Regions from separate parts of the Homo sapiens genome. Here region 2 is linked to region 1. The links come from fine-mapping of genetic effects on gene expression. Tissue or cell type: tibial nerve. Region 1 holds a variant in brackets; the other region holds the start of a gene. All regions are shown on one strand. Distances are from middle to middle.

Region 1 (8,179 bases):
CCATCTTCTGCTACAGCAATGGAATTGGTTTCTATCAAGGTGGGACTGAGGTGCTGGGCAGGTTGACCATCACCTCCCAAGTGATGAAGCAGCTGGCTGGGGATGTGGATGGGAAGGAGCTCAGAGGCTGCCCCAAGCTCCTCCCAGCACGAAGCTGAAAACCAGACCCTTCTGCCCCTAAGAGGCTGTCGAGGGCTTCCTGTCTCCCCTTGTGAGAAAAGAGACTCAGTGAAGCAGGGCTCATATTAGTGAATCTCCAAAGGTATTCCCAGCTTCCCTGAAGCCGCGGTTCTCAGTGTGTGAACCACAAACCAGCATCACTGGCATCACCTGGGGTCTTGTTAGAAATGCAAGTTCCGATCAGGAGCCTTGGTTCAGGCCTATAATCCCAACACTTTGGGAAACTGAGGTGGGAGGATCGCTTGAGGCCGGGAATTCGAGACCAGCCAGGACAACATGGTAAGACCCCATCTCTATAAAAAATAAAAAATTAGCTGGGCATGGTGGTGCACAACTGTAGTCCTAGCTACTCAGGAGGCTGAGGTGGGAGGATCACTTGAGCCTAGGAGTTCAAGGCTGCAGTGAGCTATGATCACGCCATTGCACTCCAGCCTGGGCAAAAGAGTGAGAACGGGTCTCAATAAATAAATAAAAAGAAATGCAAGTTCTCAGTCCTACCCTAGACCTACTGAATCACAATTTGGGAGGGAGGGGTGTCCCAACTGTAAACCCAAGTTTGAGAACCATTGCTTTGCCAAGATAGGGTCTTGCTATGTTGTCCAGGCTGATCTTGAACTCCTGGGCTCAAGTGATCCTCCTGTCTCAGCCTCCCAAAGTGCTGGGATTATGGGTGTGAGCCATTGCACTTGGCTACCATTGCCTTTGGGTTTTGTATTTCTTTAAACTGTTCGCCTTTCTGCATCTTTCATGAAAATAGGTGGGTGATATGTTCCTTTTCCAAGACCAGTTTATAGTTAATGCTGTTTCTTCATAAAGTTGTTATTCTTTTTTTCACTAAAGAAGGCAACTTTGAGTGGATTGGGCTTAAATTTTCTTTCTCTCCATTAATCCAGGAATTAGGAAACATCAACCAGGTGGCTCACGCTGCCATTTCCTGAGATAGCAGTTTCTGTCAAAAAGATTGGTCCACATATTGGCCAAATCCTCCTTTTCTTCCAGGCATACTTTATATTCATCATTATTATATATTCAGGAGGCAAACTATATTCTTCTTTTTAGAGATAGGGTCTCACTCTTGCCCAGGTTGGAGAGCAGTGGTGCCATCACAGCTCACTGAGCCCTGATCTCCTGAGCTCAGGTGATCCTCCTGGCTCAGCCTCCCATGTAGCTGGGACTACAGGTGTGCACCATCATGCCCGGATAATTTTTTATTTTTATTTTTTGTAGAGGTGGGGTCTCGCTGTGTTGCCCAGACTAGTCTCAAACTCCTGGGCTCAGCTCAAGCAATCTTCCCGTCTCGGTCTCCCAAAGCACTGGGATTATAGGTATGAGCCACGGCCCCCAGCCTTCAATTTTTCTTTAATGTTGGTTTCCCTGTTAGAATGAAAGCTCAGTGAAGCACATCTTGTTCACAATTGCATTACCACCACCGCGTACCATGACAGGCTCACAGGAGGCATTTATTAAGTGATTGCTGGCTGATGTCCTCACGCTTCCACCTATGACCACCTGTGGCTTATTCCCATTTTCTAGGGGAGCCCCTGAGGCTCAGAAAGGGGGAGATGATTTGCTCAAGGCCATGCTGGTGGAAAATGAAAAAGCTGGGTTTGAACCCAGGGCTCTATCCCACCCATGGTGGTCAACCTCTCTGGCTTTTCTTGCACCACGGCACTCCAAAACCTCCTCCACCCATGCTGGAGGCCTCTCTCCTGGCTGCCCATGGTCACTGCACAGCCCTGTGCACAGAGCCTGTCTCTGGTGCTGGGCTGGAGGGAGTTGAAGTTTTTGAAGCTTCCAGTACTGGAAATGTTGGTGGTGAGCAGGGCACCCTGACCCCGGCTTTAAAAATAGGAAGCCTGAAATAGCTCTTTCTGGGCCTCCCCTTTGCTGTGGCCTTTGAAGCCCCGAGTGTGCAGGGCTGAGAGTCCCTGCGTCCTGTGGCTGCCCTGGACAGGCTCTGCGAGGAATCCAGGCTGGAAGCCAGGCCCAGGTGGGAGCCACAGTCCACCACAATAGTGGCTTCCTAAAACCAAATCTTTGCTCCCCATCTCGAGCAGGGGAGTTGATTGGTGATGGCCGCGGGCATCTGGGAGCCTTGGCAGGGCAGCCCTGAAGGAGATCCCAAAAGAAGGGTGTATGAGTTCTTCATGCAGTTCTCCTGAACTTCCATCACCCATCTGAGCTAATGAATTTCTGTTAAATTCACACACTTCTCACCAATCCCCTGATCCAGGCCCGCATCCTCTCTTGTTCACACAACCCCAGCAGCACTTCTCACAGGTCTGTCTGCACTCCCTCTGTCCCCCTACAAATCCCATGCAGAAGTCAGAGGGATCTCAAAATGCAAATCTGATCATGAGACCCTCCTGCTTAAACCTGCCATGGCTCCCCTTCACCCTCTGGATACAAATCCTAATTACTAACTCACAAGACCTGTGTGGACCAGCCCTTGCTTTGTCTCTTTAGCTTCCTACCATGTATATAAACTTTTTTTTCTGTCCTGTGTACCCTTGATGAGTCCTCCAGCCACAGGACTCTGGCATATGCTGTTTTCTTTTCCTGAAACATATTTTCCCCCAGTTTGCCTAATTATTCCTATTATTATTATTATTATTATTATTATTATTATTAGAGACGGAATCTTGCTCTGTCATCCAGGCTGGAGTGAAGTGGCATGATCTTGGCTCACTGCAACCTCCACCTCCCAGGTTCAAGTGATTCTCTTGTCTCAACCTCCCAAGTAGCTGGGATTACAGGTGCACACCACCATGCCCGGCTAATTTTGTTTTAGTAGAGGCAGGGTTTCACCATGTTGGCCAGGCTGGTCTCTAACTCCTGACAGATCAAGTGATCTGCCTGCCTCGGCCTCCCAAACTGCTGGGATTACAGGCGTGAGCCACCACACCTGACGTAATTATCCCCCTTATGCAGGCTTCGAATCTCGGCCCAGCGTCCTCCCTGGCTTCTATGGCCAGGCCAATCTTCTGATGTGCTATTTTCTGCTTTGCTCACCTCTCTTTGGAAGCCCTAATCACACATGTTGCTCTATATGTATTTATTTAGTTCTTTGATTTCATTTCCATCTCTTTTCCTAGGCTCTATGAGGGCAAGGGCCACGCCTGATTTTGCATTCAATATATCCACAGAGCACAGTATATAGTTGAGGCTTGATAGGTATTTATTGAATGAATGAAAGATCAAATGAATGAATGAGTAGTCAAACCCAGAGACTAGGACTTGACCAACAGGAAAGACTCCTTAGAATTAGTCACTTCCAAGCACGAAGCCATGGAGACACCTGTCATTGTAATGAAAATCAAGCACTCGGATAAAAAGCTTGTCTTGTTCTCTCAACATGTGCCGATTTCTTCATCTGAAAACAACTCTCATTGTTCAGGCACAAATGCTTCCCTCTCCTCGAGTTAGTGACCACCCCCATTCCTCCCTTCCAGAGCACAGACTCCAGAATCTGTTACAGTAACTCTTCAGAACTGCGTGTTTTAACCAACCTTGTCTCAACATTCTCATCTGGAAACAGGGTGCATGTGGCTTGCTTGGCAGGAGATGTGGCCTACAAAGTGATGAATCCATAGCCTGGTGCCCAGCTGCTGCATAAAAACATAATTTCTCCATTTTTAAACTTGTAATGCTTCCTTCTACCTTGGGTACTACCAGAACACTCCAAGCATCTCAGTCTAGAGAGTGTAAAGGAAAGTATCCAATAAATGCTTTCATTCTAGGCAGGGCTACTCATTCTCAACTTCACCGCTTTTTTTTTTTTTTTTTTTTTGCGACAGGGTCTCACATCACCCAGGCTGGGGTACAGTGGCACCATCAGGGTTCACTGCAGCCTCAACCTCCCTGGGCTCAGGTGATCCTCCTGCCTCAGCCTCCTGAGTCTCTGAGACCACAGATGCACCGCCACACCTCGCTAACTTTTTTATTTTTTGTAGAGATGGTGTTTCTCCATGTTGCCCAGGCTCATCTCGAATTCCTGAGCTCAAGCGATCTGCCCTCCTCGGCTTCGCAATCAACTTTACTCCTCTTGATGTGTGGTGGGGGCTGCCCTGTGCACTGCAGGATATTAACTGCACCCCCCGGCCTCTACCAGCCAGTTGACCAGTAGCAACCCCCAACACTTGATGACCAAAAATGTATACAAACATTGCCAAGTGTCTCCTGGGAGCAAAATCACCCCAGGTTGAAAACTGTAGGGAATTACAGATATTCATACTAGGGATAAGGACATTTCCAAAGAGGATAGTGGATGGGGTCACTAATGGGATTTCCAGCAGGATTGCAGACAGGGAGGTGAAAATTTAGGACAAATCATGCAAAGTAGGTGTTTGCCTCCACCTTCTACATGAGACAGACTCAGATAAACGGT[C/T]AGGGATGAAGGGGATGAAGTCTCCCATTTTATAGATGGGGAAGTAGAGGTCCACAGGGAAGAACTTTGTTATCTGGCAAGCAGTGAGACCTGGGTGCCTAAAACACACCTGTACAAATGCATATGCATGTAGTATGTGCATATGTATTAGATAAATATTTGACATGTATTATATGTAGCAACTCTATTAGAAATGGAACTCTGTTAGAAACGTAGAACTCTTGAGGCCAAGACTTCGAGACCAGCCAGGCCAATGTGGTAAAACCCTGGCTCTACAAAAAATACAAAAATTAGCTGGGCATGGTGGTGTGCACCTGTAGTCCCAGCTACATGGGAGGCTGAGGCACAAGAATCTCTTGAACCTGGGAGGCAGAGGTTACTGTGAGCCGAGATCACACCTCTGCACTCCAGCCTGGGTGACAGAGCAAGATCCTGTGTCAAAAAAAAAAAAAAAAAAAAGGATATGTGGTCACAAATAGGAAAGGAATTTTTTTTTTTAGATTTTTTTTTCTGTGTACCCATATGTGAGCACCCATACACTCACATACACAAATGCACACACAGATACAGGTGAATCCTAACCTCCTTGCTTCCTTTTGTTAGTTCAGGGAGGAGAAAGCGGGGGGAATTTGGGGTGCATTTACTACCTGCAATCTTTTGGCTTTGGGAACTCAGGAGGAGGAGGAGGCAGGACAGAAAGAGCAGATGGAACAGGTACCCTTTTGGTTAGCCAGAGGGGACATTTGTGAACTAAGTGGGAAGAAAAGTGTCATTTTGTCCTTTTGTCTTATGAAGCTATTTTGGTGGCATTCATTTGGTTTTGAATGAAAGAAGCTGAATTTTACCACTGATTGTACATGTGAGTTGTTAGCAACAACCACCACAATAAGTCTGGGAACTGCGGGAAAGTAGGATGGGGCCATGGGAAATGGCCCGCCCTTCCTTCATCCAGAGGTGGCTGATGCCAATCTCCTGGCAAGGCCTGTCAGGCTTCTCTTAGGATGCACTGTGCATGGTGGTGAGGACTCCGGGCATCAGACCGACAAGGCTGGCAGGGGGTAAGGGCCTTTTCCAGAGCAAGGGGTCACACATGCAAAATTATCAAGGTGAGAAAAACTACTGGACGAGAGGGAATGGAGGTGGCTCTGCATGCAACTGTGGCTTCTACAGGGTGTGGGAACAAGAATGGTGGCAGGTGAGGCTGGCAAGGCAGCAGGGCCCAGGCTATGGAGGTAAATGTTGACCCTGGAAAGGAGTGTGGGCTTGCTTCTGAGGGCACTGGGGAGCCATGGGAGAATTCTAAGGAAGAGAGTCACCTGGCACAATTGGCCCTGGGGAACATTCCTTCTGTCTAGTGTGAGGAGTTGGGGAAAGAGGGAAAAGGCTGGAAGCAGTTCCCTTTGGTTGAGTGACAGAGGCCAACCACCTGCGCTATCCAGGTGGGGGCATGCCGGGGACGGGGCAGGATTTCTCTGGTGCACCCATTCCTTGTAAGGGGGACCTGTGATCACAGCAGTCTTGGTGTGCCATGTGGTCCCATCTTTTGCACCTTTCCTTTCTTTTGACACAGAGGCATGCTCTGTCACCCAGGCCGGAGTGCAGTGGTGCCATTTCAGCTCACTGCAGCCTCTTCCTCCTGGATTCAAGCAATTCTCGTGCCTCAGCCTCCTGAGTAGCTGGCTTTACAGGTGTGTGCCTGTAAATTTTTTGTATTTTTAGTAGAGAAGGGGTTTCACCATGTTAGTAATGGCTGGTCTCGAACTCCTGGCATCAAGCAGTCTGCCTGCCTCAGCCTCCCAGAGTGCTAGGATCATAGGTGTGAGCCATAGGGCCCAGCTTGTACTTTTCAAAGCACATTTGTCCATTTCTTGTTTCAGACATTCTTTTGATTAGAAACAAAATGTTACATTACAGTGGAAGCCTGCTGGGTACTTCCCTGACACCATTCCCTTTTCTCCTCCTACTTTTTTTGTATCTTTTTGTATCTTTTTTTTACTTTAACTACATGTGCCTAACCACAAACAATATATAGTATTGTTTCCACACTTTCCGTAAATGTTAAACTCTGTGATTCATTTAGCAAATTGCATTTTTCCCTTTAACATTATGTTTCCAAGGCCAGGCCAAGTGGCTCACGCCTGTAATTCCAGCACTATGGGAGGCTGAGGTGGGCGGATCACTTGAGGTCAGGAGTTCGAGACCAGCCTGGCCAACCTGGTGAAACCCTGTCTCTACTAAAAATACAAAAATTAGCTGGGCGTGGTGGTGGGCGCCTGTAATCCCAGCTACTCAGGAGGCTGAGGCAGGAGAATCCCTTGAACCCAGGAGGTGGAGGTTGCAGTGAGCCGAGATCATGCCACTGCACTCCAGCCCGCGCAACAGAGTGAGACTCTGTCTCAAAAACAAAAACAAAAACATTATGTTTCCAAGACTTATTTACAGTTGACTCTTGAACAATGAGGGAGGGAGGGGCACTGACTCCTTCATGCAGTCAAAAATCCACCTGTAACTTTTGACTCGCCCAAAACTTAACTTCCATTGAACAGAAGACTTGCCAACGCCGTAAACAGTGGAACAACACATATTTTGTATGTTGTAGGTATTCTATATTGTATTCTTGCAATAAAGTAAGCTAGAGAAAAGAAAAAATTATTAAGAAAATCAGAAGGAGGAGAATATATATTTACTATTCATTAAGTGGAAGTGGATCATCATCAAGGTCTTCCTTCTGGTCATCTTTATATTGAGTAAGCAGAGGAGGAAGAAAAGAGGAGGCTTTGGTGTTACTGTCTCAGGAGTGGCAGAGATGGAAGAAAATCCAGGAATAAGTGGACCCACACAGTTCAAACCCATATTTGAAGGGTCAACTGTATATTGTCACATATAGTAGATTTAGATCATTCATCTTAGCTGGTGTGCACAGTTTCACTGCATATGTATAATGCAAGTTATTAATCCAGTCTCTCTTTGTTGTTGTTGTTGTTGTTTTGATACGGAGTCTCATTGTGTTGCCCAGGCTATAGTGGTGTGATCTCAGCTCACTGCAACCTCCGCCCCCTGGGTTCAAGTGATTCTCTTGCCTCAGCCTCCTGAGTAGCTGGGATTACAGGTGCCCACCACCACACCCAGCTAATTTTTGTATTTTTAGTAGAGACAGGTTTCACCATCTTGGCCAGGCTGTCCTTGAACTCCTGACCTCGTGATCCACCCGCCTCCCAGTCCCGTTTTGATGGACACTTGCGTTGCTTCCAGTGGCTGCTGCTGTACACCTTGCTGCCGTGATTAGACCATGTGCATCCGGAGCCCTTTCCTTTCTTTTGGTGGCCACCTCTCCTTGAGGGGCCTTGTGACCGTGCCGAGAGCAAGAACTCTGCAACTGGGCTGACTGGGTTCAGATTCCAAATCTGTAATTTACGGGCTGAGCAACTGAGCAAGTTGCTTAAGGACGCTGTTTTTTCATCCAGAAAAATGGAGATAATAGCAGTACTTCCTTTAGAGGTTGTTGTGAAGATTAACCTATTAGTGTCTGTGAAGCGCTTAGTACTATGAGGTGTTTAACATAATTATTATGCAGCTAAAACTTGAACATGGGGATGTGCTTACTTATTTGTG
Region 2 (8,179 bases), 94 kb after region 1:
TGGTCTTGGGCTTCTTATCCATTTGTCTTTTGAGCCCATGCTCTGAACCACAACACTGTGGCTTTTCTTTAGAGTGAGTCCCTGACCAGCAGTCCCCATAGAGAAATGTGTTTCCACTCACATATTGAAAGGAGAGTACTTCTCTACTGAACATCGTTTCAGTGCTAATAGCTAATAGTTTAATAAAAGCAAAGCTTGGCATCATACCTTTTGGCAGATCTTTATAAAGTTGTCATACATAGAGCTGCCATTAAAGCTTGTAAAGCTTTGTGGATAAAAGCAGCATGAAAAGCAGTTCATATGATGTGTGTGACAACAAACAGAATTGTGATCCAAATTACAGGTGAAACGGGACAGTGGCCCCTGGGAGGCTAGAAATACCTGCAGAGGCTTACGGAGTGAGATGTTTGTAAATAAAGCCATTCAAACATCAATTGTGTGTGGTTTTCTTGAGAAGCAACTGTATTTAAGGGACTGCTTATACAAAATCAAGTTCTTCTTAGCAAGGATTGCTTTAAATATTCTGACTTGAATGAAGGCCAGTCATGTTCTGCCATTTTCAAAAATCTTCTAACTGGAGTCTTAGAGTTGATTTTCTTTTCATTTGTGATTAATTTTCCAGAATAACATTCCCAGCTCCCACCCCACCCAGCGTTTATAGTCCAGAGATTCTGAGAGTAGGAAGTCTTAGTAAAGCCCAGAATCTAAAACAAATAAGACCAGTCAGTTCTCTAGTTAGCTTTTTTCCTTTCAAGTTGTTAGCAATATAAACTCTGGAAAGCCTAAACTTTAATGCACCCATCTCAGCAACATCTCCTGTAACGATGGAAAGGCATAGAAAAGAAGAAAAGGGAACATTATTAATCTTGTGGGAACGCTGGAGTTTTGTCTATTATCACAAGCAGCGTGAGCCCCAAGTCATTTAAATCCTCTGGGGGTGGGAGACATAATTATTTGCAAGGGAGCATTATTAGCTAAGTACAAATGGGTTGCTATTTGTTTTTTCTGTTCTTTGTGATGATTACAGGCTGGGGATGGTGTTTAGTAACAGGATCCAGCAGGTCAGTTATGACAACTTCATCATCACTGTCATTAACCCCTTTTGTTTGCAGTGAACACAAAAAGCTGTTCAGTATCAAGAGAGTCAAGAAAAAGGGAAAGAAGAGGGGGTGGAGAAAGTGAGACAACCAAAGAGACAGCCAGGGAACAGAAATTCATACACTATGAACACCAGAAAAAAATACCCCTGGGTAATTGAGTCAGCTGACTCAAATGGTGTAGGGGCCTCAGTTAGAGGACCAAATTTTGGACTCCTTGGTCTTTCTGCCAAAAGAGTAATTGCTCATGTTTATAGATGCAAATGTTTTTGCCATTTTGGTTCCTAGAAATGCCCTAGGGAGATGTTATTTTTGGTAAGGGGTCTTCCTGCTTCAAGTGTAATGACTGTGAACAACTAGTTTCAGTATCTTCTCTAGCATGCCAGGGTAAAATGAAGCAAAATAAATAGAGGAAGTGCCATGACCTTTATTGAGGATCTACTGGGTGCCAGGCAAAATGCTTTTTTTTTTTTTTTTTTTTTTTTTGAGACAGGGTCTTGCTCTCTTGCCCAGGCTGGAGTGCAGCAGTGCAATCTTGGCTGACGGCAAGCTCTGCCTCCCGGGTTCCTGCCATTCTCCTGCCTCAGCCTCCCAGGTAGCTGGGACTACAGGCGCCCGCCACCACGCCCAGCTTATTTTGTTTTTGTATTTTTAGTAGAGATACAGTTTCATCGTGTTAGCCAGGATGGTCTCCATCTCCTGACCTTGTGATCCACCCACCTCAGCCTCCCAAAGTACTGGGATTACAGGTGTGAGCCACTGTGCCTGCCCAGTGCTGCGATCTCGACTCACTGCAGCTTTCGCTTCCTGGGTTCAAGCGATTCTTCTGCCTCAGCCTCCTGAGTAGCTGGGATTACAGGCGTGCACCACCATACCTGGCTAATTTTTGTATTTTTAATAGAGACATTATTTTTAATGTATTTTTCCTGTTGGCCAGGCTGGTCTTGAACTCCTGGCCTCAAGCGATACACCTGCCTCAGCCTCCCAAAGTGCTGGGATTACAGGTGTGAGCCCCACGCCCGACAAGGTGCATTTTTATGTGCTTTTTCTCCTCTGTCTTCTCAACAACCCTGGGGTAAAAGGCCTCATTTCCACTTTTCCTATGAGAACAATAAAGTAGAAAGAGGTAAAAGACTGCCTCTAAGATCACCCAGCACAGAGCAGGGATTTGATTTCAGGTGTGTCTTGTTCCAAACTTAATATACTGTGCTGCTGGGGGAAAACAAAGAGCAAAAGGTTCTTAACTGAAGTCAAAGACGACCAAGAAAATGTAGGCAGATGTCAGGTCTGATCATGTGGATGCTCAAATGATAAACAGACACATTGAGAGAAATTGTATTAATTAAATCATAAAAATATGTTCCGCTTTTTGGGGAATTTACTCCTCCTCCTGGGGTGACCCTTGACAAGACATTCTGTCTTCCTGTTTTTAAGCAAAAAAAAAAAAAAAAAGTGGGTAGAAGATGAAAGTTTGATATTTCGCTCATGCATAGCTTTGTCTCCTTAATATATTTTGTGCTTGCCTGTCATTTCAGCTTTCTGCTGGCAGACGAAGCTCCTTCAACTGCCATTCCTACTTCTGACACTCCTCTTGTCCTTTTCAGGACAACTTTATGCCTATTGTGCCTTGGGTCTTGAGAAGCATGTGGTAAAACTGGCCAGTGGTGATGGCAGGCATAGCAGGGAATCAGATTGAGGGGGGCTGTGGCGTGGGAGAGAAAACAAAAGAGGGAAACAGGCTATTTGATGACAGAATCAGGCTGCTTCTGCAATGACATTACATGAAATATCTGAAATTTGACCTTAACTGTATCTGGTGGGTCCCGTTAACCCTGTAAGTTATGGACAGAACGTTCACTCAAATTCTAGCAACGTCTAGGCTCATGGAAATACGTGACCAATTCAGGTGAATGAAAGGGATTTTAAAACATTAATTTCCAGCTTAGGTCTTCCTAAGACTGCCTGCGTGTCCCTTACCACCACTCCAGCCTGAGTGTCACATGGATCCTGAATGCGGACTTGTGTGCACACTGTAGAAAAATAAGCAACTGAAAACCCCAGGCATCGGGGTGGAGTGATGATGAAAGACACCGAGACCGAAGATCAGGAAGCTGGAAATTCCCCCCAGCTTCGGTGTTTGGGCTGTATCTCGCTTTTCCACTTCCCTAAATCACCCTCGTGGTGCGAGTGTGCTCGCAGCAGATGCTCCCTAATTGTCTCTTGTATTGACCGTAAAACCCTAACGACAGGAATACTCTCTCTCCTTCTATTTCTCAACACCATTTCAACACCCAAACTAAAACCTCTCACCTGAGTGTAAGGGAGTGGTGACCTTCTTAAGCGGAGAGCTCTTCCATCAGAGGGCTCCCTAAGGGCATCTCTGTTCCTAGCCGGGGAGCCGTCACCCCACTTTGTTCTGCTTAGCCTAAGACACGCAACTTTTTCCAGCTTTTACTCTTCGCTGAATTCTCACGGTGGGGTTGGGGGGATGTTCAGGCTCAGGAGCGAGGTTGGGGGCCCGGCCCGCTGGGCGCTGTTCACCGGTAGCCCGGACCAGAGCAGGAGTTTCATCATTACCTGCTGGGATAGGTGGGACACATGTATTTCCGGGGCCACCCCAGACCTCCCGGAGGATGCTGATTGACACTGTCCAGTTTGAGAACTACTGTGTCCAGGGAGCAGAGGCCTCCCCATAACCCCTTGGGTTGTGGACGTCTGGCCCAGGGCTTCTCTGGGTGAGCGGGGCGGGCATCAGAGCGCGTGGAACCTGGGGCGGGAGGTCGGGGCAGTGAAGGAGGAGGAGAAGGAGGAGGCGGAGACCGAGGGGGAGGGAGGGGAGGAGGAAGAGGAGGAGGAGTCCCTCGTGGCCACCCCGAGGGGAGGGCGACCGTAGAGACTTGGTCGGGAGGCGCCGGCCCAGCGAGGCCGCTGGGACTGTGCACTGAGGGGCGCTGACCGTTGGACGCGCGCTCCCCGCAGACCCTCGCTGAAGGAGCAGGGGGCGGCGCGCGTGCGCGGGGCGCCGGGCGGCGCGCGAGGGGGCGGAGCGGGGAGGCGTGCTGCGACCCCGGCCGGCTACAGCCTGCGGCGCGCGCAGAGCGCTAGTGGGGCGCGCGGCGCGCGCGCGGGGCGGGGGCGCGCGGAGGGGGGGGCTGCCCCGGGGCGGCCCCCCCAGGTCGGGGCGCGGCGGGCGGCGGCGGCGGGCGCGCGTCCCGTCCAGGTCCGGAGTAACCGCCGCCGCCGCCGCCAAAGCTCGCCAACATGGCGGACCTGGAGGCTGTGCTGGCCGATGTCAGTTACCTGATGGCCATGGAGAAGAGCAAGGCGACCCCGGCCGCCCGCGCCAGCAAGAGGATCGTCCTGCCGGAGCCCAGGTACCAGCTGCCCCGGCCGGCGCCGGCCCCAAGCCGCCGCCCCCTGCGGCCGCCAGCTACCCCCTGCTTCCTGGAGGGTCGGGCGCTGAGCCTCCGCTGCCCCGGGGCGGGTGACACAGCGGAGCGGGCGATGCGGGGCCGGCCTCGTCGTTCCAGTCTCTGAAATGGGGCATCGGAGGGCCGGTGGGGGGCACCCCGGGAGAGAGCGCTCCAAAGTGCCCGGCGCGGCGCCCTGCGCGCAGCGAGCGCCCCAGCCAGGGTCTGGTTATGACTTGGCTGGACCAGCTCCATCCCTGTCGCCCCCTCCCCCCAGCCCTGTCCTGTCCTGCCCTGTCCCATCCCCGTGGTTCTTCCTGTTGCATTGGTGTAGTCCCCGTTGGCTCCTTGCCTGTCACTGCTTTGCGCTCCATCCTGGTCGCTCCTTCTTCCCGGGCTCATTGGTCCCCCTTTCCAACTCCATCCTCTCACCTCCCTCTGGGCCGCTTACCTGGGGACTGCAGGCTTGTTGCTTATTGTCCGAGGTAGTTAAACTGCTGTTTTCAGTACTTGCTCTTCTTGAAGTCTATTAAGTCTAGTCACCTTCTTCGGCTTCTCTTCTATTTTGTCCCCGGGCAGGATTTTGACCCACTCAGTATTCTTTTTGGTGCCAAGTGTGTCACCTGAGCTGCTTTCCTCAACTTGTAGATCTACTGGTGGCACTTTATTAAAAAATTGAAACAGGAGTCACTTAAAAAGACACTTGAATGGGTGATTCCAGACAGGAATTTGTTGTTAAATTATCAAAGGAGGGCCCGATTGAATTGGCGAGGGGCTCGGTGAGGTGCATACCAAGTTGCAATTTTCTCTCAAATGATTTATTATTAAGGTACTAGTAAAATTTTTTCTAGTTCATATCATTAGCACTTCCCCAGAAAAAATAGTTTGTCTGGTTAATAGTGAGTTTTAAATAACGTATCAAGGCTTCAGTGATGGATTTTTTTTTCTCTAGCTCCTTTCCTAATTAACACCATCATGAGTTGTACAGCTAATGTGATTCCTTGATGCTAAATAGCTCTTGGAATTGATGCTCAAAAGAGGCATCTTGTTTATGGTGAATTTGAAACCATGCAATTCTGTAAAATATTGGAATCTAAACCAAAGTTATTGTCCATTTGAAATCATCAGTCCTTCAAGCGTTAGGCGCCCAAGATTGCTTAAATGTTACCTAATGCTAAGTGATCATCATCTGATTTTTTTTACAAGTCATCCATGAGCCCTATGATACAGAAAATACCAGTCCCCTTGTTATTTGTTGTGAAAAGCTAAATTGTGCAAATGAAGACATGCTTGCTAGGTATTTTGAGCTTGCTTTTCCTCCTTAGCCCATGCCTCTTGTTGGTTTTGCAGGATGTGCTACTCTTTGATAGACAATGCCAAGTAGTGAAAATGAGGGAAAAGTGCAAACCTTTCTGCAATGTCGTGAGTTTAACACCCCTATTCCAGAGTGTAGCATATCTGAAGCTAATTGAAAAAAATCAATGCTGCTTAAAATTTCCGGCAAATGGGAAACTTACTTAGAGAACAAGAACGCCTACATCAAACCTAAATTTCACCAAAAAAACTGTACATTTCTAATGTGGTAGAAAAAGGCTTAATTCCTCTTTTGTCTTGCCTTTCCTAGTGTCCCTCCACCACCCAAAGGCAGGGAGTCCTAAATATGTAGTATTTCTATATACAAAATTGATAAATCTCAACTCATGGGCAGTTTTTTTTTTGGGGGGGGCTAGTATATAATATTAATAAAGTTAGGAACTTCTGTTCAGTTTTTTTTTTCTTGGTGTTTGGAACTTAATGTGACTTCTGCTTTTTTAGTGTCCCTCTTAAGAACGTACTTATGCACTTAGGGTGTTCACTTCCTTGTATGAATGCCTTTGTTTTTCAGTGGTATTCTTTGGTAATGCTTTCTTTTAAGGCAGAGTAAGTGACAGCCAGCATTATTTCTCATGACATTTGAAAATTGAGAAATACCAACCAGAGAGTAATTTTAGGAAACAGCCCTTCAGTAATTGTTACTCTGTTGCTCTTTTTAAAATAGACTCTCGAATTGGGCCATTGGAACCTCCTCCTGAGATTCTAATTTGTTTTCTACTTATCTTAGTGGCTTTGGCTTTAGTTTTGTAATGTAGCTATTTACATAGTAACAGTCACTCCTTGTGCTGTGTTAGGATTCTGTTACATTGAGATTATCAGGTATAACATCTTGCAAAATTCTCTCTACCACTGGATGGCAGTTAGTGGCCTACCTATTTGATTTGGAGGTTGGGGGTTGGGGAATTTCTAGATCCTGTAAAAAAGTTAATTGCATGTTAAAATGCCCCAGCCTAATGACTTAAATAGCTGGTATGACTTCACACTATTGGTAAAAGGGATACGGGTCAAATGTTTTCTGATAAGTTTCTATTTCAGCTTCATTATAGAGGAAGCCATGTGATCACCAGTTTTTGGTATTCTTGAAAGAGATGTTCAGATTTGTATTTTTGGTATCTGAATGAGAAGCATACATTTTAATTTGCCTTTGGTCTATCACTAGTGATTTTTTTATTTCCAGCAAATTATTTGCAGTCACTATTCTTTGTGCTTCCTTATTTTAGTTACTTTGCCTTTCCCACAGTTTTAAACAGAAGAGCATCAGAACGAAATATCTAGCTAATTTAAATGAAACACTGGGTTTGCAGCTTCCTGCCTATTACAGGAGAGTCTCAGAAAATGGAACATTCTGCCCAGGGGAGATTTTGCTTCCCTGAGATGGCAAGAGGCAAATATTTTGTTATGTTGACACTTTATTCAGTTAACCAACCAATGAGTGCAAATCCTGGAAAAGCTGACTGTTTGTCCAAATGGTATAGCTGCTTTAGTTTACTGAAATGTTGTTGAGCTAATGTAGCTGATAATGGGGCCTACTGGGAGTAGTAAACTGTGACCCACAGCCTCCCTTGCAGGCCCAGTTAAAACAGGAGCATTTAGATGTGCAGGCCAGTTGTTTTACATCATGTTGGAAAAGAAATACTTTTATTTAAGTAAGGTCTAATTCACAAGCAAAGGCCCACAAAGGGTCATCATCTTAAGCCCTGGAGTGATTCAGACGACTTTTACTGTAGGCTGTATTACTCTGTTACTCTTTTTTTTTTAAAAAAAACAGAATGAAATTCAGATGACTTGAAATCACATATAGTTGAAGGCGGTTGAGTAATGTGAACTTCATCTTTCCCCTGGAGTCTTATTTCTATTTACTGGACATTTCAAATGTTGGATCACCTATTGCAAAGCTTGTCCTTTCAAAGTATTCATACAATATGATAGGAAGGTCTGAAACAACATTTTAAAGATTCTTTATAATTTTCTAGGAGCACTGACAGTCCTTAAAGGACATTTATGATACCGTTTATGACATTAATTCAGTACATAGTTGTAGAGCCATTTCTATGAGCCAGGCACGGGGTACTATGACAAACCCAGCCACAGCCCCTTCCTTCATGGAGCTTATAGACTAGTGTGAAATACAAAGATTTGAGCCAAGAAGGATGTTTGCTTTGAAGTGTATTTGCTTGAAGATTTTATTTAACCACAAACAAATAGCGTTTGGATGACTTTTATTACTCTATATGCATAGAATATAGAATAATAAAGAATGAATATAGAATATAGCATAATGCATAGAACACATGATGT

Evidence for each region. PIP is the estimated chance that this variant, and not a neighbour inherited with it, causes the effect.
Region 2: GRK3 starts here. The variant in region 1 is fine-mapped to the expression of GRK3 in tibial nerve (GTEx, PIP above 0.99). The same link has a PIP of 0.9 or more in aorta, skeletal muscle and spinal cord.

The regions. Positions count from the first base shown.
Region 1 is chr22:25,466,583-25,474,761 of GRCh38, forward strand. It overlaps LOC124905094 (a long non-coding RNA gene), which reads left to right and starts at 6,992. Exons shown (of 2, transcript XR_007068036.1): 1 at 6,992-8,179. RefSeq lists enhancers at 5,643-6,143, 6,144-6,644. The variant C/T (reference allele first, on the strand shown) is at 4,568.
Region 2 is chr22:25,560,683-25,568,861 of GRCh38, forward strand. GRK3 (G protein-coupled receptor kinase 3) reads left to right here and starts at 3,993. Exons shown (of 21, transcript NM_005160.4): 1 at 3,993-4,471. The coding sequence starts at 4,359. GRK3-AS1 (GRK3 antisense RNA 1) reads right to left here and starts at 4,734. Exons shown (of 4, transcript NR_183564.1): 1 at 4,398-4,734; 2 at 3,408-3,677; 3 at 2,621-2,799; 4 at 206-816. RefSeq lists silencers at 3,919-4,018, 4,329-4,578 and enhancers at 4,690-5,205, 6,488-6,667.